Regions from separate parts of the Homo sapiens genome. Here all the other regions are linked to region 2. Evidence: fine-mapped expression QTL. A gene starts in region 2. Each other region holds a variant in brackets. All regions are shown on one strand. Distances are from middle to middle.

Region 1 (8,543 bases), 60 kb before region 2:
ATTGCCATGTGGGCCTTCTCACAGGCAGTTTGCAACATGGCTCCTTGCTTCTTTAAGGCCAGAAGTTGCAAAAAAACTCTAGTGTGATAGATCTTACACAACCTAACATACTCAAGGGGGAGACAGTGCATCACTTTGGCCATATTCTATCAGATAGAAGCATGTCACACACAACTGAGATTACATAAGGGTGGGATAGTTGGGAGTCACCTTACAGTCTGTGTACCTCACCCAATAAGTACAGTTAAAAATTCAAGTGAGTTTTACTAGCTTTAAGTATCTTAAGTTAGCTTTTACCTAAATATTTTTAGTCATCCTTAACTCTCCATTGAATAAAAAGAGGAAGCTTTATAGTTACCCTTCCTATGTATAAAGCACAGACAGATATAAATGCAGTACATAAACCAACAAAGAATATATCTAAGTTATTAAAATTTCATGTTGAGGCTATTATGAGTTGAATTGTATGCCTCCGAAATATATGTTGAAGTCTTAACCACAAGTAGCTCAGAATGTGACCTTACTTGGAAATAGAGTTACAGAGGAAATCAAGTTAAAATGAGGTCATTGAGGTGGGTGCTAATCCAATATGGTGGATGTTTTTATAGGAAGTGGAAATTTGGACACAGAGACAGACATACATGGGAGTAAGATGATGTGAGGATACAGGGAGGGTGGTGCCACCTGCCATCCAACAAATGTTTGAGGCTACCACTGCTAGAAGCTCAGAGACAGACATGGAACAGATTCAACCTCACAGTCCTCAGAAAGAACCAACCCTGCCCACACTTCGATTTTGAATATCTAGTCTCCAGACCTGTGAGAAAATTAATTTCTGTAATTTAAACCACCCAGTTTGCAGTACTTTTTAAGAGCAGCCAAATGCAGTGGCAACAGAGAAATAAAAAACTGAATTTCACAGAAAGAAGTGTAAAATCTGCCAGGGGCCAGGTGTGGTGGCTCACGCCTATAATGCGAGCACTTTGGGAGGCCGAGGCAGGTGGAACTCTTGAGCTCATAAGTTTGAGACCAGCCTGGGCAACATGGTGAAACCCCATCTCTACAAAAAAGACAAAAATTAGCTGGGCATGGTGGCGCGTGCTTGTAGTCCCAGCTACTTGGGAGTTGGAGGCACGAGAATCACTTGAGCCCAGGAGGTGGAAGTTGTAGTGAGCCAAGATCGCACCACTGCACTCCAGCCTAGGTGACAGAGTGAGACCCTGTCTCAAAAAAATAAGTAAAGGTAAAAATAAAATAAAATAAATTACACCCTCCAGAGGCTGGAGGGTGAGAGCTGTGATGGATGCTGTGCCCCGCCCTGTGACCATAGGTGTGAGTCGTTTACCTGAGCAAAGAGATTTGCAACAGACATGGCCACCGGGAGACTTTGTCAGAATTGGGGACCATCCCAGTGTAGTCTTCTGAGTTCTGCCTGTTCTGGGATAAGATGGAGAAAACCCTCCCAAAAGAAATTCTATGGGAACAGGTGAGGGAGAGTTCACTAAACAGGCAGAGGGGAGAACCCACCACACACATACACTGAGGCCCCACTCACCTGCCAGTTCAAGCAGCAGATACAGCAGTAAGGAAGGCAGAGGTGGGTGGAGTGGGGAGGCAGGGATGGGCATTGTGGTGAAACCTGGAGCTTGCTCTGCCTGAATGCCTGTCCTGGAGATGCCCTCGACTCAGTGCTCCGAGCAGAGAAGACAGTTCTTGCCTCTGTGATGTCAGAGGAAGGGGATTGTGATGAGAGGAAAGGCCAGGGGACTGGGACACTTTTTCCTTTGTGATTATAAAATTGAACAGACAAGGTTGCTTCAAGCTAGGAAGTTGCTGCTGGAAGTATTTAGCTTTGCTGGGGCTGGGGGGCTTGACACCCACAGCCTTATACTCCTTCCTGAGTTTCATCCCATCTCACAGGTTCTCCCCAACTTCATGGCCTTTGCCTATCTAGGAGCCTCAGACACATAGGCTAGACAAAGGCCTCATCCACATGATGCGCAGGTATGGGTCTAGCTCCTGCATGAGCTCAACATCTGGGCCTGTCTGAGCTGCACAGCTGAAGAAAGAGACAAGATGTCTATAGCCTCACCCACTTGGTAAGAGTTGGACTTTACAATGGATGCCCTTTCTTGCACTCCAGAGTAGTTAGAGGTAAAAAACAAGCAATATCTGCTGTGGGCTCTTGGCTTTTCTGTGGGTCCCTCCATACACTACCAGGAACTGCTTCCTTTTTCCTTCCTGCAGAGGAATCAGGCATGGCTGAGAAAGACATTCGAGTTGTGCAGGTGGTGATGATTTGTGCTTTAGAGGATGGAGGAGGCCTGCAGGGAAGGCGGAGCTGCGGGGAACACTCTCTAGGAGGGAGAGTAACATGCCTACAAACACCTGGGAAGGTGAGGGCTGCCTCTCCTGCTTGGGCTGGACCTGGGACCAGCTCTCAGAGATGGGATTGGAGGGGCAGAAGAAATGCCCCCAGAAAGAGGGAGGAAGCAGCATGTTGGCATCCTTCTCTCTCAGCTCTGGAATGGGTTCTTCCTAAGCACAAATGTTGTGTTCAGGGACACTCAGCCCACACTCAGCTGGTGACCCTTTAATGTCCAAGCATCCACAGGCAGGCACTGGCTGCCATGGCTGTTTCCCCATTGCCTCCTCATGACTTCTGCCTCCTCCTCAGGAACCAGCTAGATGTCAGGGCCGGGAGAGGTGTTAGACCCTCTAGGAAAAGAAAGCAGAGCCAGGCTGGCACGTTCTCTCTGAGACGACAAGAGTCCCCATCCCCTTGTGATGTCATCATCCTATCCCGTTGTTCTGAAATGATGAATTCCACAAAGGAATTCCTATCCATGGCCCCTGCTTGGAACTAGACAGGAACATTCCTCCAGCCTCCATCATCCTCCCCTTCCCCTACTCTGAGGAATCTTCTCACCTTTCATTAGACTCTAAGTTCCTTGGAGAGTCAGTACTCACGGGTCAGTATCCAAGAGTGCCAGCTTTGGAATCAGATATAATCTAGGCTAGAATCCTGAACGCACCTCCTAAGAGCTGAGTAATCTTGGGCCCATGATACAGACCTGTATATTCTGCAACCTTCTTGACATCTTCATTTGTATATATATATATATATGTATTTTTTTTTTCGAGACAGAGTTTCGCTCTTGTTGCCCAGGCTGGAGTGCAATGGTATGACCTCGGCTCACTGCAACCTCTGCCTCCCGAGTTCAAGTGATTCTCCTGCCTCAGCCTCCCGAGTAGCTGAGACTACAGGCGCCCACCACCACGCCTGGCTAATTTTTGTATTTTTAATAGAGACAGGGTTTCACCATATTGGTTAGGCTGGTCTCGAACTTCTGACCTCAGATGATCCACCTGCCTCAGCCTCCCAAAGTGCTGGGATTTCAGGTGTGAGCCACTGAGCCTGGCCTCTTTGTATACCTTAAATATTCAAGTTTGAGTTTCAGATCTGCACTCACAAACCTTATCTTCTCCCACACCATGCCTGTTTTGTATATGGTACCATCATCTAAGCAGTTTGTCAAACCAGGAAGGGACTCATGTTCTATACCCTCACTTATCCACTTGTTACCAAGTGAAAGGGGGTTGCTGCCTGATGTGCTAGAAGCCAATACTGTGACACCAGGCTTTTGAGAAAAGAAAAGCTTTTTATTGCAAGTTGACTAACAGGAAGACAGAAGTCTACCTCAAATCTAGCTCCATGTGCTGGCTTCAAGGCAGTAGTTTTATTAGCAAAAGTTTAGGGGTTGGATTCTGGGATTAGTATGTGATTTGTGAAAGGAAAGGGGAGGTCTGGAAAGTCCTTGGGCATGTACAGTTATCTCTCTATGCCTCTTCACGGCTCCCATGTGCAAAACCCTGGGGCGTCA[T/A]CATGAAATACGTGGTAGAAACTCAGGCTGTGACATCAGCAAGCTCATTCTGAGCAAACTCCAGTTGGCCATATTGGTTCCAACAGATTTTAGTCAGTTTTGTTATCCTACAAGTGGAGGAAGTTTCGGCAGTTTAGCAATTTTTTTTTTTTCTTATCTGCTATCCTGTAAACTCAAGAATTTCTTAGTGACTGGTTTCTTTAACTCTTTGGGGGCATAGTTTCACACTCCTATCTTGCCCCTACCAGGCCCTATTGGATTTACCTCCTAAATCCCTTCTGAATTAATCTCTTTCTCCATCTCTATCATCATCTCTTGCCTGAATAAGAACAATTGCCTTCTCACTAGGGTACCCCCATTTTTATTTGCCCCCTATAATCTCTTTCTCCTTCTTCAGCCAGACTGGTCTTTTTACAACATAGATTTAATTATGTCCCTCTCTTGAATAAACATTTTTGTGGATTCTCATTAATCTGGAGGTACTATAAACAAGGCTTTCTTCTGTGACTGACTTGCTCCCTTAGAGATGAAGGGATCCCCACCTTTCTGATACGTAGCATAGCTTCACTGTCCCAGGTTGGGTTCCCTGGGAGACAGACTCTGGGGTGAAGATGAACAAGCAGGTTATCTTTCAGGGAGTACTTTTAGGATCAACACTTGTGGACGGGAGAAGATGGAAGCAGGACTGGGTAGAAGAAGAAGCTGGGCTGCAATGAAGTCCCATTGAAGACCTCAGCTGACCTTGCATGGAGCCTGGTACTAGGATATTCCTCCAGAGTTGCTCTGAGTTAGGATAAGAGAGCTGGGCCTTTATACGACTAGGTTGATGAGTCCAATGAGATGTGGTTTGTTACCAGATACGACCTAAGCAAGGGCACTCCCTTCAGCTGAGACAATCGCAAATAGAGCTGATGCTGAGGACCATCTCCACAGCCAGGTGCCTCTCAGCATCCATTACACAATTCATGGGAACAACTTGTTCCTGTGAAGACTTGGGCTCAGGACATTATTCACTCACTCATAGTCAGGTCCTCAAAGCTATCCCAGCTCACCCACATAACCCAAAGTTTTCTGATCCCACTTGGTCTGACCTGGATTTTACTAATGGGAAAAGTTTAGGGTGAGCATCACGGGGGATTGAGAAGCCACTTCCTCTGGGATCTGAGTGCCTAGATCTGGGGTGAGCTCTGGTAGTGGACAGAGGAAGGACGAGAGGAAAGGAAACCTCAGGCTTTTGAAGTGAGATAAAACTTTGGAATATCAACAAAGTCTCCCTACCGCACATTTCCTTGCATTGTTCCCCACGGGGTACAAGAGGCAAATAAAACCTAGCTGAGGACAAGACGTTAATTTTTTCTAATAGACTTAATTTTTTAAGGACAGCTTTAGATTTACAGAAAAATTGAGCCCTATCATTAGCATCTTACATTGATATGATACATTATTATAATCAATGAACCAATATTGATACATTATGATTAATCAAAGTTCATAGTTTATTTAGATCTTTTCTTTTTACCTAATGTCGTTTTTCTCTTCCAGCATCCCATCCAGGATACCTGTTACATTTACTTGTCATATCTCCTCAAGCTTCTCTTGGCTATGACAGTTTTTTAGACTTTCCTTGATTTTGATGACCTTGACAGTTTTGAGGAGTTCTGGGCCCGATGTTGCAGAATGCCTCCTTATTGAAATTTGTCTGATGTTTTCCTCATGATTAGATTGGGGTTGTGAGTTTTGGGGGGAAGGTAATAGAGGAAAAGTGTCATCTTCATCACATCATATTAAAGGTACATATTAGTGACATGATTTATGATTCTTGATGTTGATTTATAACTGTTGATGAACTCTTGATCACCTGGCTGAAGCTGTATTTGTCAGATTTTTCCACTGTAAAGTTATTTTTTCTCCTTTTTTCCATGCTGTACTCTTTGCAAAGAAGTCGCAGTGCACAGCCCACACTTCAGGAGTGGAAGTTATGTTCCACCTCCTTTAGAGTGGAGTGTATAAATAAATTATCTGGGACTCTTCTGCACTGGAGATTCTTCTCTTCTTTCCCATTAATTTATTCAATCATTTATTTATATCAGTATGGACTCAGATATTTATTTTATACTTTGGACTATAACTCATTACTACTTTACTTATTTTTTTGCTGAAAGTGTTCCAGCTTTGGCCTTTGGGAGCTCTTTCAGTTGGTTCCTGCGCCTCTTTGATGTACTCCAGTCACTGTGGGTTTTGGTTTTGGGGTTGACTTTTTTTTCTTGTTAGCACTTTCTTACTTTCTAGAGGATGTTGAATTTTTGATGGAATGTTTTAAACAGAAAGAAGAGAGAGTAGTCTTTAAAGAAAGAGCTTGAGAATACAGCACACAAGCCAAGTGATCAAATGAAGAGAAGTTTTCTTTTGAAATCCAACACCTAGTAGAAACCAATGACCTCAATGATGTATTCACTCATTTAAAAAAATTGACAGCCTATTATATGGCAGACACAGTTCTGGCAACTGAGGATACAGATAATCCTCCCCCACCCCCAACCCCCCACGATATAACTGACATTCCATTTGCGTAACATAGATAAATACAGGCAGTTCTCACTTTGGTGATGACATGCATGCATTTCTCTTACCATAGTTTAGTTAAGTAACATCAGTCCCACAACACAAGTCTCAAAATTTAGGTGCCATAGTAAATTTAATGTAATTTGCATAGAGTACAAACTTCTGGGCTAGCTCTTCAGTCCACAAATCACCATGGTAATAAAAGCTCGTCATGATCAGTAACCAGTCATGTTGTGTCTTTCAAAGTCTGTTGGTGATTGGTCCCTATGGCTCTCCTACTCAAACAGCAAATCCTATAGTTGGGTTGCCTCCTTGCCTCCCAGTGATGAGCCCATATGACATTTTACAGAAATGAATAATTGAAAGAGGAATTTTGCAACCAAGATGAAAGTGCAGTGAAGAAATGAGAAGTGAAAATGCTGCAAGTGAGGTTCAAATTGAATGTGAGTGGAATTCTAGAAGTACAAATAGTTGACTGTGGCAATGTAGACCCTGATGCAGGAACTTCAGATAGGCAGCCAGAGGGAGGTAGTAAACGCAAACTGCCACAAATGGGAGAGGAGTGGTAATAAAAGGGCTGAAGATGTCCCAAAGGTTGAAATGCCAGCAAAAAACTTCACATGAAAGGATCTTCTGGAGTGATTCCACAATATTGAAAATTCAAGGGATAAGATGTTGGAAGCTAGTCCAAACTTAGAAAGATGGCAAAACACCAAGGTATAATAGAAATGATGCTTGCTGGCTAGGCATGGTGGCTCATGCCTGTAATCCCAGCACTTTGGGAGGCCAAGACAGGTGGATCACCTGAGGTCGGGAGTTCAAGACTAGTCTGATCAACATGGAGAAACCCCATCTCTACTAAAAATACAAAATTAGCTGGGTGTGGTGGTACATGCCTGTAATCCCAGCTACTCAGGAGGCTGAGGCAGGAGAATCACTTGAACCCTGGAGGCGGGGGTTGCAGTGAGCCAAGATCACGACATTGCACTCCAGCCTGGGCAATAAGGGTGAAACTCCATCTCAAAAAAATAAAAATAAAATAAACAAATGAAAAGAAACAATGCTTGCTCCGTGTATTAGCCCATTCTCACACTGCTATAAAGAACTACCAGAAACTGGATATTTTATGAATAAAAGAGGTTTAATTGGACTCACAGTTCCACAGGCTTAACAGGAAGCATGACTGGGAGGCCTCAGGAAACTTACAACCATGGTGGAAGGAGAAAAGGAAGCAGGCACCTTCTTCACATGGTGGCAGGAGGGAGAGAGAGAGAGAGAGCGAAGGGGGACTTGCCACACACTTTCAAAAAACCAGATCTCATGAGAACTCACTGAGATCTTATGAGAACTCACTATCACAAGAACAGCAAGGGGGAAGTCCGCCCCCATGATTCAGTCACCTCCTACCAGGCCCATCCCACAACACATGCAGATTACAATTTAAGATGAGATTTGGATGGAGACACAGAGCCAAACTATATCACTCCATATTAGAAATATACAAAAAAAGGCAAGCACTCTTCCAACTACTCTGGATACATTTTTACAAAGAAACAGCACTTGAACTCTCAATGTTTCTAATGCTTTGAATTGTAGTGCACAAATAAATATTTATTTCATTATATTTTCATTGTCCTCTACATTTGTAACTGAGAGTGTGAGAGTTTCTAATATTTTGACAAAAAATGGTAAAGGTCACAGAATGATCATTGTTTTTCTGATTGACTATGGAGACTGCTTTCCTGGGTTTCAGGTTGCACAGTCATTTTTGCAATCTTGCACTGCCATGAAAAGTGAGGGCTGCCTGTATTCGGCATAATACTCATCAAAATAAGGGCTAAAGAAAAATTAATTAGGATAAGAGAAATTAGAATGCCGGGATAGAGAAAATAAATAATATTTTATACAAGGTAGTTTATAGAAGGTGCCTTTAATGAAGTGACATTGAGCAGAGACTTGAAGGAGGGAGAGCGGGAGCCATGCAGCTGTGTTGGGGAAGAAGCAGAGAAGTGATATGATTTGACTTTTCCAAAGAATCACTGTGGCTGAAAAATGAAAGCCAGAGGAGTGGTCCCCAAAGAGATGATGCTGGCTGGG
Region 2 (8,543 bases):
TGATGAAAAATAAATAGAACAAAAATAATGGAAAGATATCCATGCTTGTGGATTAGATAATTACTTTTGTTAAAAATATACATACTACCCAAAGAGATCTACAGATTCAATTCATTATTAGTAATATTTCAATGACATTTTCCTCAGAAATGGACAAAACAATCCTCAAGTTCACATTAGTCATAGAAAATTGTGAGTAGAAAAGGCAATCTTGAGCAAAAAGACTGGAGGCATCACATTGCCTGATTTCAAACTTGACTACCGTGCCATAGTAATCAAAACAGCATGGCACTGGCATAAAAATAGACACATAGACAAATGGATCAGACCAGAGAGCCCAGATATAAACGCACACATTTACACTCAATTGACCTTTGACAAAAATGTCAAGCAGACACAATTGGGAAAGGTCAGTCTCTTCAAAAAGTGGCATTGGGAAACCTGGATATCCATCTGTAGAGGAATAAAATTAGACCTTCCTCTCACATGACACACAAAAATCAATTCAAAATGTATTAAAGACTTAAGTGTAGGATCTAAAAGTGTAAAAGTACTGGAAGAAAAGTGCCATGACATTGGTGTGGGCAATGAATTTTCAGATATGAGTCCCAAAGCACAGGCAACAAAAGAAAAATAGACAAACGGCATTACAACAAACTAAAAAGCTTCTACACAGCCAAGGAAACAATCAACAGAGTGAAAAGACAACCAGCAGAATGGAAGAAGATATTTGCTAGCCATGCATCTAATGAAAAGTCAATATACAAAATATATAAGGAAGTGAAACAACTCAATATTAAGAAAACAACCCAACTAAAATATGGGCCAAAGATCTTAAAACCCATTTCTCAAAAGAAGACATTAAAATGGCCATCAGACCTATAAAAATACTCAGCCTTACTATTCATCTGGTAAATGCAAATTAAAACCACAGTGAGCTATCATCTCACACTTGTTAGAATGGCTACTATAAAAAAGATGATAACTAGTTTTGGAGAGGATGTGGAGAAAAGGGAATTCTTGCACATAGTTAGTGGGAATGTAAATTAGTAGAGCCATTAGCAAAAACAGTATGGAGGCTCCTCAAAAAATTAAAAATAGAACTATCATATGATCTGGCAATCTCACTATTGGGCATACATCCAAAGGAAATGACATAAGCATGTCACAGAGATATCTGTGCTCCCATGTCCATTGCAGCATTATTTACAATAGCCAGGATATTAAATTAACCTAGATGTCCATCAGCAGATAAATGGAGAAAGGAAATTGGTATACACAATGGAATTCTAATCAGCCTGACCAAAGAAGGAAATCCTATCATTTCCAACAATATAAATGATCCTGGAAGATATTATGCTAAGTAAAATAAGCCAGGCACAGAAAGACAATACTGCATAATGTCTCTCATATGTGGAATTTTAAAAAGTTGAACTCATAGAAGTAGATAGTAGAATATTGGTTACCAGGCACTAGGCAGGGGGTGCATTTGGAGAGATATTGGTCAAAGGATACAAAATTTCAGTTTAGTTAGGAGAAATTAGTTCCACAAATCTATTGTACAATATGGGGTCTAGAGTTCATAACACAATTCGTAACCTCAAAAATTGTTGAAAGCAGATTTTGAGAGATCTCACCACAGAAATGATACATATACAAGGTAGGTCATATGTTAATTAGCTCAAATTAGGCATTCTGCAATGTACACATATTTCATTAATATGGTATACATGATAAGTATATACAGTTCTGTCAAATAAAAATAAAATATTTTGTTAAAAGTTTCATTGAAATTAGAAACTTGGAGAAACAATGATAAAAAATGAAATCTCCTGTGTGTGCATGTACACTTACTTATATGCATACATGCATATACATATGTATACACACATATGTATACACACATTTGCAAATATATATACACACACATATATGTATATATACACACACACACATATATATGTATATATAGACACACACATATACATTCACAAATATATATCAAAGTGTGACCTATTGTGATAGTATATAAGTTTGTTTTGTGTATTAAATAAAATTACAACACACGTTAAAATCTCATTAAAATATCTGGCCCATAGAAAGTAAAATATGTGGCCCATAGAAAGCATCCAACACATTAATAACAAATTTAGAAGTACATACATCACAGTTGTAACTCTGGTTGTTGCTAACAAGTGTGGTAGGCAATAATTAATTCTATGTTTACTTCCCTGCATTTTCTAATATTTCTGCTAGTAGCATAACACGACTAAAAGAATGAACTTTGGAGCCGGTCGACCTGGACTTGAATCTCAGCTGCTCCACTGACTGAGGTAGGGGACAATGAATGGACAAGTTCCTCCCTCTGCCTGAGTCTTTGTTTGGAAATAGGGGATAATAGTTGCAGCTTTCACACAGGGATGTTGTGAGGATTAGTGGAGCTAAAACAGGCAAAATGCTAATAACTGTGTCTACATGGTAGGAAGAGCTCAATTGTTAAACTCTTACTGCTGTCATTTGGGTACAGTGTATGTGTGAGAAAAATAATTTGAAAAGTGAGACCCCTGCCCTCTAGGGCCTGTGAGGTGACATCACAGCAGGGCCCAGTGGGGAATTGAGAGGCTGCTGTGCCCAGCCCTGTGGTTCTGGGGTCAGCTCCATGGCCTGAGAAGGGATCAGGACAGGTAACTTGTCTGGGAGCTGTGAGCAGGGTTCTCCCAGGCTGCACCAGGAAAGGCCCTCCAATCCTGCCTGTCTTGGGAAGGGGAAAGAAATTATCCATGGGAAATTTAAGAGAACCAAAGGAGGTTGTAGTACCTGTTATGGGCTGAATGTGTCCCACAAAATGCATGTGTTGAAGCTCTAATCCCCAGCACCTCTGAACGTTACAGTTTGGGAGACAGGGTCTTTAAGAAGTAATTTAGTTAAATGAGGTCATTGGGGTGGGCCTTAATACAACAAGACTGATATTCTCATAAGAAGAGGAGATGAGGACACAGACACACACAGAGGAAGATCATGTGTTTAAGACACAGAGAGAAAATGGCCCTGTATAAGCCAAGGAGAGAGACTTCAGTAGAAACTAACCCTGCTGACACCTTGATCTTGGACTTCAGCCTCCTTAACTGCAAGGAAGTAAATATCTGTAGTTTCAGCCACCCAGCCTGCAGTTCTTTGTTATGGAAGCCCTAGGAAAGGAATATAGGACCCAGTAAGCAGCAAATGTGGAACTTCTTAAAGAGGAAGAGGCCACAGAGAAATGGGTGGTAAGAATCAGGTCACAGGGGAGGGAGGAGCATGGGGGAACAGAGGACAAAGTGAGGAGCACCCTTAGGGAGGATGGTGGCTGAACACTCCCAGGATACACCACACCACTGCCCTACTCAAGTGAGCACTATTACAGACTTCACATCCTCAGTTTGGTGAAGAGAGAGGGCTGGGCCTAGAGCCACATAACCCTGTTAGGGTGTCTCTGAGCTTACTCTGTGGACTTGGGCATGTCACTTGGCCCTAGGGCCTCAGGACTGGTGAGGATTTAGATAATGATTCTTCTCTGCTTTTTCAATTGAAATATTATCAAAATGTAAGTAATTGTTGTTGTGGTGGTTGAATCGTCCTGTGGTTCAATGCCTCTGGTAGCCAGCTGCAGATCCACAGAGAAAGTGCTCAGCTCCCTGATTTTCTGCTCTCAGTCAAAGCCTAATCCTTGGCCTTTCTTGGCAGCACTTGTCATTGTCCGGAATCCCTGAAAGTCCAGGGACAGGCCATGGCTCAGTGGGCAGGAAAAAAGATTTTAACCGAAGGCAGTGCTCACCTGTGAGTCTCCCCAGCAGTAGCGTCATCAGCAGGAAAGGACTAGGAAGGTGGGGCCAGGAGGCTGGCACGGGCATTCTGGAGACCTTAGGAGCCTGCTCTGTCCAAACGTCTGTGCTGGGAAGATCGCAGACTCTGCTCTGAGGAGAGAAGACAAGCCCTGCCTCCCTTAGTTCAAGAGGAAGTGGCTGCGATGGAGTGAAGCAGTAACCTGCTTCTGGATTGTGAAACAGAAATCAGGAACAGCAAGCAGCTACAATGCAAGCAGTTATGCATGCCCCATTTCAGGAGAATCAGACAGGCTTAGCAGAAATAATGCTTCCTTCCCACCTGAGGTCTTAACTCCTTCCATGACTCCTAACCCCATCTTTATGTCTTCTTGGTGATTTGCCATTTGGTGCTCTTAAGCCAGGAAGGACCTGTGGTTATGAAATGTTTCCTAAACTTTCCATCTCAAGACCTCAGGATGTGGTTGGCTTGTGGTCTCATTCTACAACAGCCTCAACCAAGTGCTACTCAGTTGGGGCAGGATGAGGGATCACTGGACCTGCTCAGTGTTGGAGAGGAACAGGTCTGCTCTTGAAATGGTTCCCTATTCCGAACTTTTATAAATATAAATGGCAAAACTTAGCCCAAATTCAGTCTCATGTGGCCGTTAGCACTTTCATATGCCTGCACCCAGCAGAAGGAATTATTTCCTGACTTCTTCCAGGAGAGGAAGTGGGCTTAGGGTAATAAGGATCTGCTTTGTGAGGTGAGGTGGGGATTATGGGTTATGGAAAGGGGATATGTTTATTATGGGGGAGAATATGGAGGGCAGATTCCTGGAGCAGTCACATCGATTTCAATACTCTTTGCTCTGCACATAGAACACCTATTCCATTCATCACTGTCTTCAGATGGGAACTGAGGAGGGAGGGAGAATAAATACCCTAAGAAGATGTGCTAAGGAGTTGGGGAAGTTACTGGGCCTGCCTAGGTTCAGTTTTGCCTTCTAACCTTGGGATAATAAGTCTCACTGCCATGTTTTAGTGAACATCAAAAGAGATAATGACTATACATCCCTGAGATTCAGTAGGTTATTATTGATACTCATGGTGCCAGGTGAAGAGAGGGAACTCAAATATTGCTTTTAAATGGATTTCTACTGCATGCTGAGTTTCCCACCAGTGGCCTTCTCCCATGTTCCCCGGACTTCTGGAACCCAGCTTTTATGGTGTACTTGGTCTACCTCTGACACTCTGAGATCAATTTCTCCCTCTGGATCCTCTTCACCCTGCTTTTTGTCAATCTGTAGATGAATTCCTTTTCTTACAATCTCCAGCTGTGTGACTTTCAACAAGACACTTGACTTCTCTAAGCCTTAACTTAATTACATGTAAATGGAAGTTATAACATGCACCTTGTAGTGATATGGTAAGAGTAATATAAGCCATACAGAAGGTTTGATTCATATTTAATTATAACCAAAAAATTGTGGCTATAATTACATTTGTGTACAGGGTGAGTTCACTGCTTCCCTGACATACTTGTGCTTTAGAAAAATTTCCTTGGTAGGAGAAATGGTTTCTCCTCCATCATCTGTGACTAAGAAAGACCTGTCTGGAAACCTCTCTTTCCCATGCTGGGCTTGCAATCCTTCACCTATCATGAGTAATTGTCAAATGAAATTGTAAAAGTCATCACATTTCCATGCAAATTTCTTTTTCAATGTGGCAGATGCACAGAGGGTGAAATCATCACCTCCTGCTCCACACTCACAGAAATGAATATAAAAATGATAAAATCATGTTAATCGATGCCAAATTACACTTTAAAACAAGAAACTAGTCTCTATATGACATGAAGGGTAGTAGCTGCTGTGTTTACTGCAGATGTCCTGTGCTCCAGGTACTGTGCCAAGCATTTTGTCAGTTACCTCATTAATTCATCACTCTGGTCCCATGAAATTAGCACTACCATTAACCTTTTTTTATAGGTGAGGAAACTTGAGGCACGCAGGCAATAATACATTTGTTCAACATCACCCAGCTTTTAGAACTAGAACACAGGTTGTCACACTCCATGGCCTTCACTATGACACCTCTCATAAGAAGGGAGAGATATCTCTCAGGAAGGAAGCAGAGAAGAAGCCATAACGTCAATTAGGCGCAGCCTCCACAGCAAGGTTGGGATAGGTGCCATGTTCCATAAAGTGCTGACAGCCCATGATCACTCAGGGCATTATTCCTGTAAAGATTACAGTGAAAGCAGTAATCACTAAAGATTTGGGGAAAAGCGACATCATAATAAATTCAAAAACAATAACTAAAAAACAAAAACAGCAATGAAAATAACATCTTAGAAAATAATACCTCAGAAAATAAAAATATAAAATGTGAAAATATTTTTAACATTAACATATTTAGTAACCTTATAGAGATAATGAAAAGAAAGTAAATCCATAAAACAAAGTCACGTGTGAAACAAGAATAGGTAGGTGTGCAGTAACAACAGGTATCTGAGAAAAGTAATAAAAAGAAGAATTTTGAAAAAATATAATTAGTGCTAAATTGTTTAAAAAACAAATAGGTGGATGTATTAATCTGTTCTTTCTATAATTGTTATAATGAAATACCTGAGACTGAGACTGGGTAATTGATAAAGAGAAGAGGTTTAATTGGCTGATGGTTTCAGAGGCTTTACAGGAAGCATAATGCTGGTATCAGCTTCTGGGAGGTCACAGGAAACTTACAAAAATGGCAAAAGGTGAAGGGGAAGTGAGCATATTTACACGACCAGAGCAGGAGGGAGAGAGAGAGTAGGGAGGTGCCACACATTTTAAAACCACCAGATCTCATGAGAACTCACTCATCATCATGAGAACAGCACCAAGAGGGAAATCTGACCCAAAGACCCAGCCAACTTCCACCAGGTCCTACCTCCAACACTGGGGGTTACAATTCAACATGAGATTTTGGTGGTGGCACAGATCTAAACCTTATCATTTTCTCCTGCCCACTTTCAAATATTATGTCCTTATCACATTGCAAATACAATCATACCTTCCCAGAAGTCCCCCAAAGTCTTAACTCATTTCAGTATTAAGTCAAAAGTCCAAAGTCTTATCTGAGACAAGGCAAGTGCCTTCCACCTATAAGCCTGTAAAATTAAAAATAAGTCAGTTACTTCCAAGATACAATGGGGTATAGGCATTGGCTTTAGCCATCTGAATGGGAATACTCCCATTTCAAAAGAGATACATTGCCCAAAAGAAAGGGAATACAGGCCTATGCAATGCAATCTGAAACCCAGCAGGGCAGCCATTAAAGCTCCAAAATTATCTCCTTTGACTCCATGTCTCACATCCAGGGCACACTGGTGGAAGGGGTGCACTCCCAAAACCTGAGCAGCTCCACCTCTGTGCCTTTGCAAAATTCAAATTCCACGGTTCTTCTCATACTTGGTGTTGAATGCCTGCAGCTTTTCCCCGCACATGGTGCAAGCTGCTAGTGGATCTATCAATCTTTGGTCTGGAGGAAGGTGGCCCTCTTCTCACAGCTCCACTAGGCAATGCCCCAGTGGGAATTGTGTGGGGGCTCCAACCCCACATTTCCCTTCTGCACTGCCCTAGTAGAGGTTCTTCATGAGGGCTCCGGCTTCTGCCTGGACATCTAGACTTTTCCATATATCCTCTGACATCTAGGCAGAGGCTCCCAATCCTCAGCTCTTGTACTCTGCATACCTGCAGAATTCACACCACATGGAGCCACCAGGGCTTATGGCTGGCACCCTCTGAAGCAGCAGCCGAGATATACTCGAGCCCCTTCGAGCCAAGACCGGAGCTGGAGTGAATGCGGTGCAGTGGGCCGTGTCCGAAGGCCGCACACGGCAGCAGGCCCTGGTTCTGGCTCTCAAAACCATTCTTCCCTCTTAGACCTCTGTGCCTGTAAAGAGATGGTCTCTGAAATGCCTTTGAAGGCTTTTCCCAGTGTTTTCAATATTAGCATTTGGCTTCTTTTTACTCATGCAAAGTTCACAGCCTGCTTGAATTCGTTGCCTGAAAATGGGCCTTTCTTTTCTACCACATGTCCAGGCTGCAAATTTTCCAAGCTTTTATGCTCTGCTTCCCTTTTAAATATAAGTTCCAGTTTCAAGTCATCTCTGTGCTTACGCATATGAATTAGGCTGTTAGAAGCAGCGAGGTAACTGCTTCTTCTTTTTTGTGTGTGATATAAAGTCTTACTCTGTCACCCAGGCTGGAGTGCAGTGGTGCAATCTTGGCTTACTGCAACCTCCATCTCCCGGGTTCAAGTGAGTCTCCTGCCTCAGCCTGCTAAATAGCTGGGACTACAGGTGTGTGCCATGCACCACCACACCTGGCTAATTTTTTTTTTTTTTTTGTATTTTTAGTAGTGATGGGGTTTCACCATATTGGCCAGACTGGTCTCAAACTCCTAACCTCGTGATCTGCCCGCCTCGGCCTCCCAAAGTGCTGGGATTACAGACGTGAGCCACTGTGCCCCGCCTCAGGAAATTTCTTGAATGCTTTGCTGCTTAGAAATTTCTTCCAGCAGATACTCTAAATTGTCACTCCCAAGTTCAATGTTTCACAGAACCCCAGGGCAGGGGCACAGTGCCTCCAAGCTCTTTGCCAAGACTTAACAAAACCGATCTTTGCTCCAGTTGCCAGGAAGTTCATCATTTCCATCTGAGACCTCCTCAGCCTGGACTTCATGGTCCATATTACT
Region 3 (8,543 bases), 50 kb before region 2:
GGAGGGAAAAGGTGGAGAGAGTGTGTGCTCAGGTATTCATATATGTGGCAACTGGGTTCCTCACTTGATCCTCACACGCCCATGGGGCAGGGATTATTATTCCATTCTGATGGGGAAACTGAGGCCAGAGAGTTTAGGGAGTGTCAGGAGATTAGTAGGATCCAAACCTAGGGAAGCCCATCATTATGTCCCCAAGGGTGACTCCTGAGTCCAAGACAAGTCCAACACTCCAGGATCATGAGAATGATTAGTAAAGGGTGGGCAGGTGGTGTGAGGATGGATTCAGAGTGAGAGAGTTGCATGCTGCCCTTCTTAGCCCCAGGGGCAGGGAGAGGACCCCATATTCTCATGATCTCAGGGAGCCCTCCAGGGACAAGACCCAATTAAACCTGCTGGCTGGAAAATTCCCTGGTGAGTCAGGGAATGTGCCTCGGGCTTGGAAGGGCCTCAGACATCATCTCTCCTACCTCAACCCCAGTGCAGATGTCATCTGAAATCTTTCTGTTGGACACAGAGAGTCAGATCTACGGAAGCTCATGTTGGGACTGTTTGCATTTTTTAAATAAGGGGTTTTGGATGTTAAAAGTAACAAAGGTATTAAAAAAAATTTTTTTTAAAATAAAATGGTGCTGGTGGGTCCTTAAGGAAGGAATGGAGACCTCAGCATCTATAGCCGCTGGAGTGTTGGAGTGTTGCAGGCCGGCAGTTCTCAGATGGGTGGCTCTCTGGGGCTTTCTCTCCTTTGAGGAGAGCTGCACTGCCCAAGTTTATTCCTTCTAAGGGGCAGCCCACATGAGAGATAGACTGCATTGGGAATATGAAGGGCCAGCCCTTCCCCTCAATTTGAAAAAAATCTACAGGACCCTCCGGCCTTTTGCCTCTCTGCAAGAGCAGCTGCATCTTTGTACTGCCTGCACTGTGGCTCAGCACCTCCCTCCTCCTACACTCCTGCCTCCTCATTCCTGAGGCATGTTGACCCTGACAGCACTCTAGGATGCCTCCTGCATTGCTTTATGCATCCTCAGGTGGCCTCCCAGAGAAACTGTCCTTGGGAAGTGGTCTGGAAAGAAGACTCTAAAATATAAGTTGGGAATCTGATTACTCATCAGCTAGCAATGAGGACCCCAGGGCTGGTGGTGAATGGGACTGGAGAAGCCGTGACTTGCTGTTGTGTTGCGATTGATAACACTTTCACTGGCACTAAACTGGGATAGTGTTACCACAGGAAGGAAATTCCTTGCCATTAGCCTTTTGAAAACAGATTGGGAAATGGTCGTTATAAGAACTAAGGTGTTAGCTGTTGCTGGGCATGAACTCTTGGGAGGAAGGCAATGAGAAACTAAGAGTGATTCATCATGAGTTAAAGTTCAGCTGGAAGCCAGAGGACTTCTTGGCAGCACTGCAGATTCTTATTTCTTGGAGCCACAGGGCAGAAGGAATAGAGAATTGGGTCCTGGGCATCATAGAAGAGTAGCAGAATCACAGCGGAGCATGAATCTCAGTTTCAATGGCTGCTATGCTGGGATAGGGCCCTGATGGGGAAGTTGTGGGACCCTGAAATGTGGAAGGAGACATTTGGGTCAAACCACTCAAAGATTGTCAGTTGACTTCAGAGTTACTGGGGACAATTGCAGTGGCATCGCTACTTGTCGCTATAAATATCCTCCCCAAGCCAAAAGAAGAAACAGAAAAGGAAAAGTAAATTCTACACAATCCAGGCCCTAAATATTGCTTGAAGAGAGAATGCCAAACTGCAAAATGGCTGAGTCAAAAGGGAACACTCACCTAACCCTAGGGCACAGTCTCTCACTAGGCTCCCATGCCACTGATGCAGCACGTCACAGAAGGCATCCTGCAGTTTGCCTGCCAGCCTAGACAACCTAAAATGCATTTCCAGACTTAGCATATGTGCCAGGATGCCATGTCAGACACACTGAAAGAACCCAAAAATGGCAGCCCTCTCTCAGCCCCAGTGGGTGGTTGGAAGTCTAAGAAAAGACTCAACCTTGTCCAGATGGTACAGACTCATCTCATCCTGTGCCTCCTTGAGAAGTACAACTATGAACCCAAGAAATATCATGAGGAGCAGGCATAGGAGAACTTCCAAGGTGGAAGAGCGAGGTAAGAACCTGAGGACTGAGGAACAGCCCAGCAGCCAAACAGCAGGGACTCTATGCCCAAATACCAGCCCCCAGCCACAGAAAGTGATGAAGGGAGGACATAGAAAAGAGGAGGTCTCAAGTCAATAAATATAAATCCCGCACTTAAAGAAACTACAAAAAGTAGGGCAAAGTAAACCCAAAGAAAGCAGGAGATAGGAATTAATTTAAAAAAAAAAAGAGAGAAGAGAGCAGATAATTAATGAAACTGAAAACACAAAAACAATACAAAAACCCATTGAAACAAAGAGTCAATCTTTTGAAAACACCAATAAAATGGGAAAAAACTCTAGCATGACTGATGAAAAAGAAAAGAGAAATGACACATTTTTAGTATCAGGATGAAACGTGGGATACCATTGCAGACCCTGCAGACACCAAAAGGGTTATGAGAGGATATTATGAACAACTCTACACACATAAATATGACAACTTAGATGAAATGGACCAAAAGTTATGCAAAACACAACTTACCAGGGCTCACTCAATAGGAAACGAAAAATGTGAATAACCCTAAACTATTAACGACATTGAATCTATGATTATAAAATATCCAAAAATATCCCTGGGGCCCAGATCTTTCAAAGGAAAACACAAGCATTTAAAGATAAATTAAAACCAAATTTAACACACAGGAAAATGGTTCTAAAAAATTTGGTAAAATGTGAATGTATGCTCCATTTTAGATGATATGAGGAAATTATTTTAATAACTTTATGAAATTTAGTGATTTGAACACTTAAAATTTAAGTGGACAATGACACTGGTTTTGTGAAAAATGTCCTTGATCACATGATCCCTCAATGTGCAACTGCAGGTGCATGCGTGAGCAAGTTTTCAGTGGACGTGACTATGCACCTTCCACACATCTCTGATGATTGGGGACATTGTTTGTCTTCTATTTCGTGTCTTTCCTCTTCTGGCAGGCAGGGACATGAACAAATCCGTGACTCAGCACTGACCCAGGAGATGACGCAAACATCATAGGGTGTTTTGGAAGGAACCTGAGTCCTTATTCTTATTTCCTGGAGCCTCAGGGCAGAAAGAATAGAAGATTGGGCCCCAGCCATCATTAGAAGAGTAGCAGAATCACAAAGGATGTTGAATGTCAGCTTTAATGGCTTCTATGCTGGGGTTGGGCCCTGATGGGGAAGTTGTGGGACCCTGAGATGTGGGAGGATGTATTCGGGTCAAAGCACTCAAAGATTGTCTTTCGACTGGAGTAGAGGGACCCCTCCTGGTATTAAAAGAGAGGGAAATAAGACATATTTTGGTTATAGAGAGGGGGAACACTGGCCAAATTTGGGTCCTTGGGACAAAGCGCAGCAGAAAGGGAAAGTTTCTCTAATTAGCACAAATTCCCATTATAGCCTGGTAGTGAGCCTGTCCTCAGGGACTAGATTTACCTTCATTACTTTGGACCAATAACCTGGTCTAATGACAAGAAGTCTTCAACAACATCCCTCATTACTTCCTAAGTCCTGGTTTCCCCTTTGGTAAAACTCCAAGCTCACTGGGTGTTTGAAGCAGGAAAGGAGATCAGAGATGAACAGAAATTTGCATATAGTAAATGTGCAGAGTGGTTGTGATTATTGTTGGTCAAATATCACCATCAGAACACAAAAGAAGCCTGTGCTGTGACCAGGTCACCTGGGGGTCTGTCCAGGCTTAAACTTCACTTGTCTTTCTGAAATTTATAGAGCAGATGCTGGAGACTGGTGGCTGAGGTCACAGATGCGGATGGAAAAGTTTAGGATAGAATAGGGACAAGGTAGAGGTTAGAAAGTGTAAAAGGCAAGGTGCTGTGCTGGCGAGAAATGCAGAAGAAGGCGAGACACAGGACTTCATAAACAAACGGATCACCTCCCTCTCTCTTTTTTCCTTTAATGTATATTTATGTCAAAATATCTATCAAGTTGTGCATCAGACTTGACGCACAGTTTCTCCTGGTAGATGGGGCTTAAGGGTGTCTACAAATGGCCAATTGTTACCTTGAACCTTCTAAGTAGTGGTGACCCATGGAGTGTAGGATTTTAATGTAGACGTTAAAATTCTACTTTATATTTATAGACTTCTAGCTTATTTTATGACAAGCATGAATATTGCTTTTAACATTAAAGAAAAAGACAAAATTTAAAAATGGGAAGTAACCGCACCATGGGTGATATCTGAGCCGTGCTCCTTCTGGTGCGCTGAGATCTCCAGGGCATAGCTTTTGCTGACTGCTTGCTGCCCATCATGCTCCACCTGACAGGTGAGCACCACATCG[T/C]CCCTGTGGGCACAGGTGTTCACCAGGAGCCAGCTCATCCAGTTGTAGGTGCCATCCTTGTTCTCTATGAGGGTCGAAGCTGTTTCTGTCCGGGACACATTTCCATTCTCCAACCAGGTCAGCTGTAGTCCCCGGGGGTAGAAATTGCTCACCTGGCAGGTGACGTTTGCCTGGTTCTCTGCCCTCATGGGCTGTTGAGTAACCTCCAAGGTGGGTGGAACTGAAACAGCACAGGGCAGAAGCTCTGATCTTGTGGCACAGACAGATCACAGGGAGGGCTAAATAACGTAGCTCCCACCAACACAGTGAGGGCATCACCAGGACAGTGCTAGGCAGGCAGCAGGTGCTCAGACATTGAGGGCACTCGTTGCATATGAGTGAAATTACTAAGCACAGTGCCTGGCGCACAGTAGGTGCCCAAGGACTGTTAGCTGCTGCTAGGCTAAGGATGAGTGAAATCTACAAGCACAACCCCTGGCATGCAGTTGGAATGTAAGAACTGTAGCAAAATCAGTGAAATCGCCGAGCACATAGTGATTTGGCTCCTAGTAGGTGCTCACTAATTGTAGTTGCTCTTGGTGAAATAAATGAAACTCTGTAGCCCAGAGCTTGGCACATGGTTGCTGGTCCCCTGACAGCTGCCATTAAAATGATAGTAAGTGACCGGCTCACCTAGGTGCATGGGAGGTGGACAACACAGTTAGGAATTAGATTCCAGGCCTTTCAAGCTCTGGAGCCTGGGGAGAGGGGAGTGGGCTTGGCAGCCAGGTGTGGGCTTGGGCTGGGTGTGAGGGTCTTCTACCTCGGATGGCCTCAGACAAGTTGGCAGTCCCACGAAGAGGGTCCCCCTGCAAGGTGATGTGGGCTATCTCGCAGATGACTTGAGAGTGAACGTCCCCACGGGTCAGCACCACCCTGGCTGTGCTGTGGATGCTGTAGGACACACTGTCTCCTGCGGGGTCCACGTTGGTCTGGAAGTCTGAGAGCTCATTCCCATTTTTGAACCATTTCAGGGTGATGTCTCTGGGAGAGAAGCCATGGGACTCGCAGGTGAAGCTCACTGTGTGCTCAGGTGTGGCCCTCACCGCAGGGCCCGATACCACGGGGGCAGAGGGTTTGGCTACAAAAGGACCATCGATAATCAGGAGACATGACTCAGATGACCATCACTGATGATAAGCGTTTGACATGTTAAGAACCTTCTGAGACGTTAGTTTTTAATCTTTCTAATAATGTCGTGAAGGCAGTGTCCTTATTCTCATTTTACAGATCAGGACACAACAGCTCTTAGAGGTGAGAACCAGGCCATGGTCAGACAGTGAGTAGGGGCAGGGCCCAGAGGGAAGTCCAGGCCTGAGTTCAAAGTCCTCTCCACACAGGGAGACTTCCACCAATCTGGGCATAGGAACAAAATTACTGATTGGTCTCCCTCCATGTTATTAACTGGTCCTAGCTGTCCTCCCCCGGAAGGCTCACTAACCTCAGAGAGGGCATTTATAGAAGCCAATACAGGGATCAATGGCAAAGTGGCACCACCGTGAGAGCTGCAACCAGGCTGCTCAGCCCAGGACAGGGGTGGGCTGACAACCCCAGCTCCTCATCCGCAAAACAGGAGGACGGAGGACGGCGTTTCTACTTCCTGGGATGTCGCCAGGATTCAATGGGGCAATGGAAGCAGTTTTGCTCTGGATCAAACACAGAAGATGCTTCCCCCAAAAAACACAGATCTATCTTTAACCCAGACTTTACAGATACACAGAGGTCTCTCTTTAGGTATTATAAAAATATGAAACATTCCGTATTTTTCTTTTCACAAATATTTCGTTCTGTCAAATAAAAGGCATTAATTAAGGATAAAGCTTTAACGTAGAGCCAAGAGTTTGTAAGAGCATTGGAATCACACCTGCTAAAGGTCAAGCCACAGGATGTTGCAGTAGATAGACCTGGATAACAACTGAAGCCAGGGTCCGTGGGATTTTGATCTCTTTCACCTGGAGTACTTTAATGAAATAACCAATGAGAGTGGGTTTGCAGTTGAGGATTTTCAACCAGCTAATGAACTGTTTCCAAAAACAACCTTTTGTGAAAATCCCCTATAAAAAACCTGTCCTGTATTGCCATACGGGACACTATTCAGGGTTTCACTGACTCAGTGTACCCAAATTGCACCTCTTTATCTTTCAGATAAATGCTATTTCCTTTGGCCTTCCTAACAATCATTTTGCTGTTGTTGTTAGTTGTTCTAATCTGCTGGAAGTCCTAAATTTGAAAAGAGGAAATTTTTGGGAATCTGAATCTTCAGTTAGGACAGGTTTGGGTGAAAAACAAGGATCACTGAGTACTAAGAAAGCCAAAGGTGGTTAGCTTTTTCATCGTTAATTAATTACAAGAGACAAAGACCCAGGCCACACCAACAGACAGAAACCTATTCTGGGCCTTGAAAGCAAACACATTGGAGAATCAGAACAACGAGTGCAGTTTCTCCATGTAGATGAATTTTAAGGGTGTCTGCAAATTGCTAATTGTTACCTTGAACCTTCTGCCGTCCTCTTAGAAAGCACATATTATACGTTTGACTTTGCCAATATTAACTTGCTCCCTGATATGCGTGAAATAATGTGAGAGCACAGTAAGGAGGGTGTCACTTGAAGATGTCAAGTCTTTGAGACACCAGCAGCATGGGTGTCCCTAGAAGGCTGAGAGGCTGTCTTCAGTTCCGATTTTTTGAGGGCTTCTTGGCAGCCTGATGCTGGCTGCTCTCTCTGTACCTCTCAGCACTTCAATCCTCCTTCTATTTGTCAGAGGGGGTCCTCATGTGAGCCCTTGTGTAGGGCGAGACTCTGAGAGGATCCTTGGTGGCCAAGGGCCAAAAGTAGATAGAAACCCCACCCTGGGAAGATGAGTGAGGGTAAGTGCAAGGGCATAGCCTGGCATGTAGTAGGTGCTTAATAAATAACCCCTGTGACTGTAATCATGAGGTTTGGTCATTACTGCTTCTGGAGCTGCATAGCTATTCTTTAGGCAACAGAACAAAGAGGCACACAAACACCAAGGAAAGGCTCAAACCCTACTCACCGCAGCTGCCAGAAAAAACCCAAATGATAAAAGGAGCAGCAACCACCATGTTTGGCGAACTGGCTTTCAAGTAAGATCACAGGGGAAGCTGGAAGCATTTTGGAAGAAGGAGGGAAAAGATACCTCAGTGACATCTGGGAGTGCTGAGGGAGGGAGGCTTCTGGGGCTGAGGAGTGAGGATTTGCTGGGACTCCAGCACGTGTTTAGATACAAATGTTTTCAAGACAGAAGGTTCCCCAGCCCTGAGGCTGCATCTGAGCCAGGCTTTGTCCCAGTCTCCTATCTTGGGCCCTGAGGCCAGTAGCATGGGAGGGGTCCTGTTCAGGCTTCTGGGGCCTCCCAGAATGTTTCCAGAATGGCTGTTTTGAAGCACCCATGACCCAAAAAGCTGTTCTCAAAGCCCCAAAACCTGGGGCACCGCTTTTGCTAGGGGGCTGTGTATGAGAATCTTCTGGAGCCATTAAGAACTTTAGATATCCAGGCCCAAATTAGATGCAATTAAATTGGCATTTTAGGGGGGTTCCTGGGTCCAGCTTTGCAAACTTTTTTTTTGATAGTTTTCCCAATGATTCTAATGAGCAGCCAAGGTTGAAAGCCACTGGACTCCAACCCAAACCCCATTTATACTTGGGGCCTAGAGATGCCCTGACCTGTCTGAGGTCACACAGCTTCACCCTAACACAACTCACCTTTATTGAGCATTTACTGTGTGCTTGTTGATGCCCTAAGCATTTTACACAATATCACTCCTTCAGACTCGGCCCAGTCTGTGAGGTCAGTGTTACCATCAAAGGGTGAGGACATCGAGGCCTATGGTGGTGAAGCACCTTGTCCCAGGTCACAGAGCCAGGAAGTGGCAGAGCCGGGAAGAGGCCCAGGCAGCTGGGATACTGCCTGTGTTCTCCTAACGACAGTTCTGCAGAAGCTCAGTAATAACCTGAATGACACCACCATTAGGGGCTCTGTGCACATCCTCTCCAATCCTCACAGAACCCAGAATAGGCCATGATAATCAGCATCTCACCGATGGGGAAACCGAG

The links.
Region 1: its variant is fine-mapped to the expression of SIRPB1 in whole blood (TOPMed, PIP 0.93).
Region 3: its variant is fine-mapped to the expression of SIRPB1 in whole blood (INTERVAL, PIP above 0.99).

Annotation. Positions count from the first base shown.
Region 1 is chr20:1,556,026-1,564,568 of GRCh38, forward strand. SIRPB1 (signal regulatory protein beta 1) reads right to left here. Exons shown (of 6, transcript NM_006065.5): 6 at 5,360-8,543. It overlaps LOC107985409 (a long non-coding RNA gene), which reads left to right and starts at 1,982. Exons shown (of 3, transcript XR_007067493.1): 1 at 1,982-2,099; 2 at 4,520-4,640; 3 at 5,427-5,512. It overlaps SIRPD (signal regulatory protein delta), which reads right to left and starts at 1,680. Exons shown (of 4, transcript NM_178460.3): 1 at 1,556-1,680. The coding sequence starts at 1,628. The variant T/A (reference allele first, on the strand shown) is at 3,885.
Region 2 is chr20:1,616,055-1,624,597 of GRCh38, forward strand. SIRPB1 (signal regulatory protein beta 1) reads right to left here and starts at 3,955. Exons shown (of 6, transcript NM_006065.5): 1 at 3,815-3,955. The coding sequence starts at 3,890.
Region 3 is chr20:1,566,490-1,575,032 of GRCh38, forward strand. It overlaps SIRPB1 (signal regulatory protein beta 1), which reads right to left. Exons shown (of 6, transcript NM_006065.5): 3 at 5,231-5,548; 4 at 4,316-4,648. Among named protein-coding and RNA genes, the nearest start is that of SIRPD, 13 kb to the left of the region's middle. The variant T/C (reference allele first, on the strand shown) is at 4,429.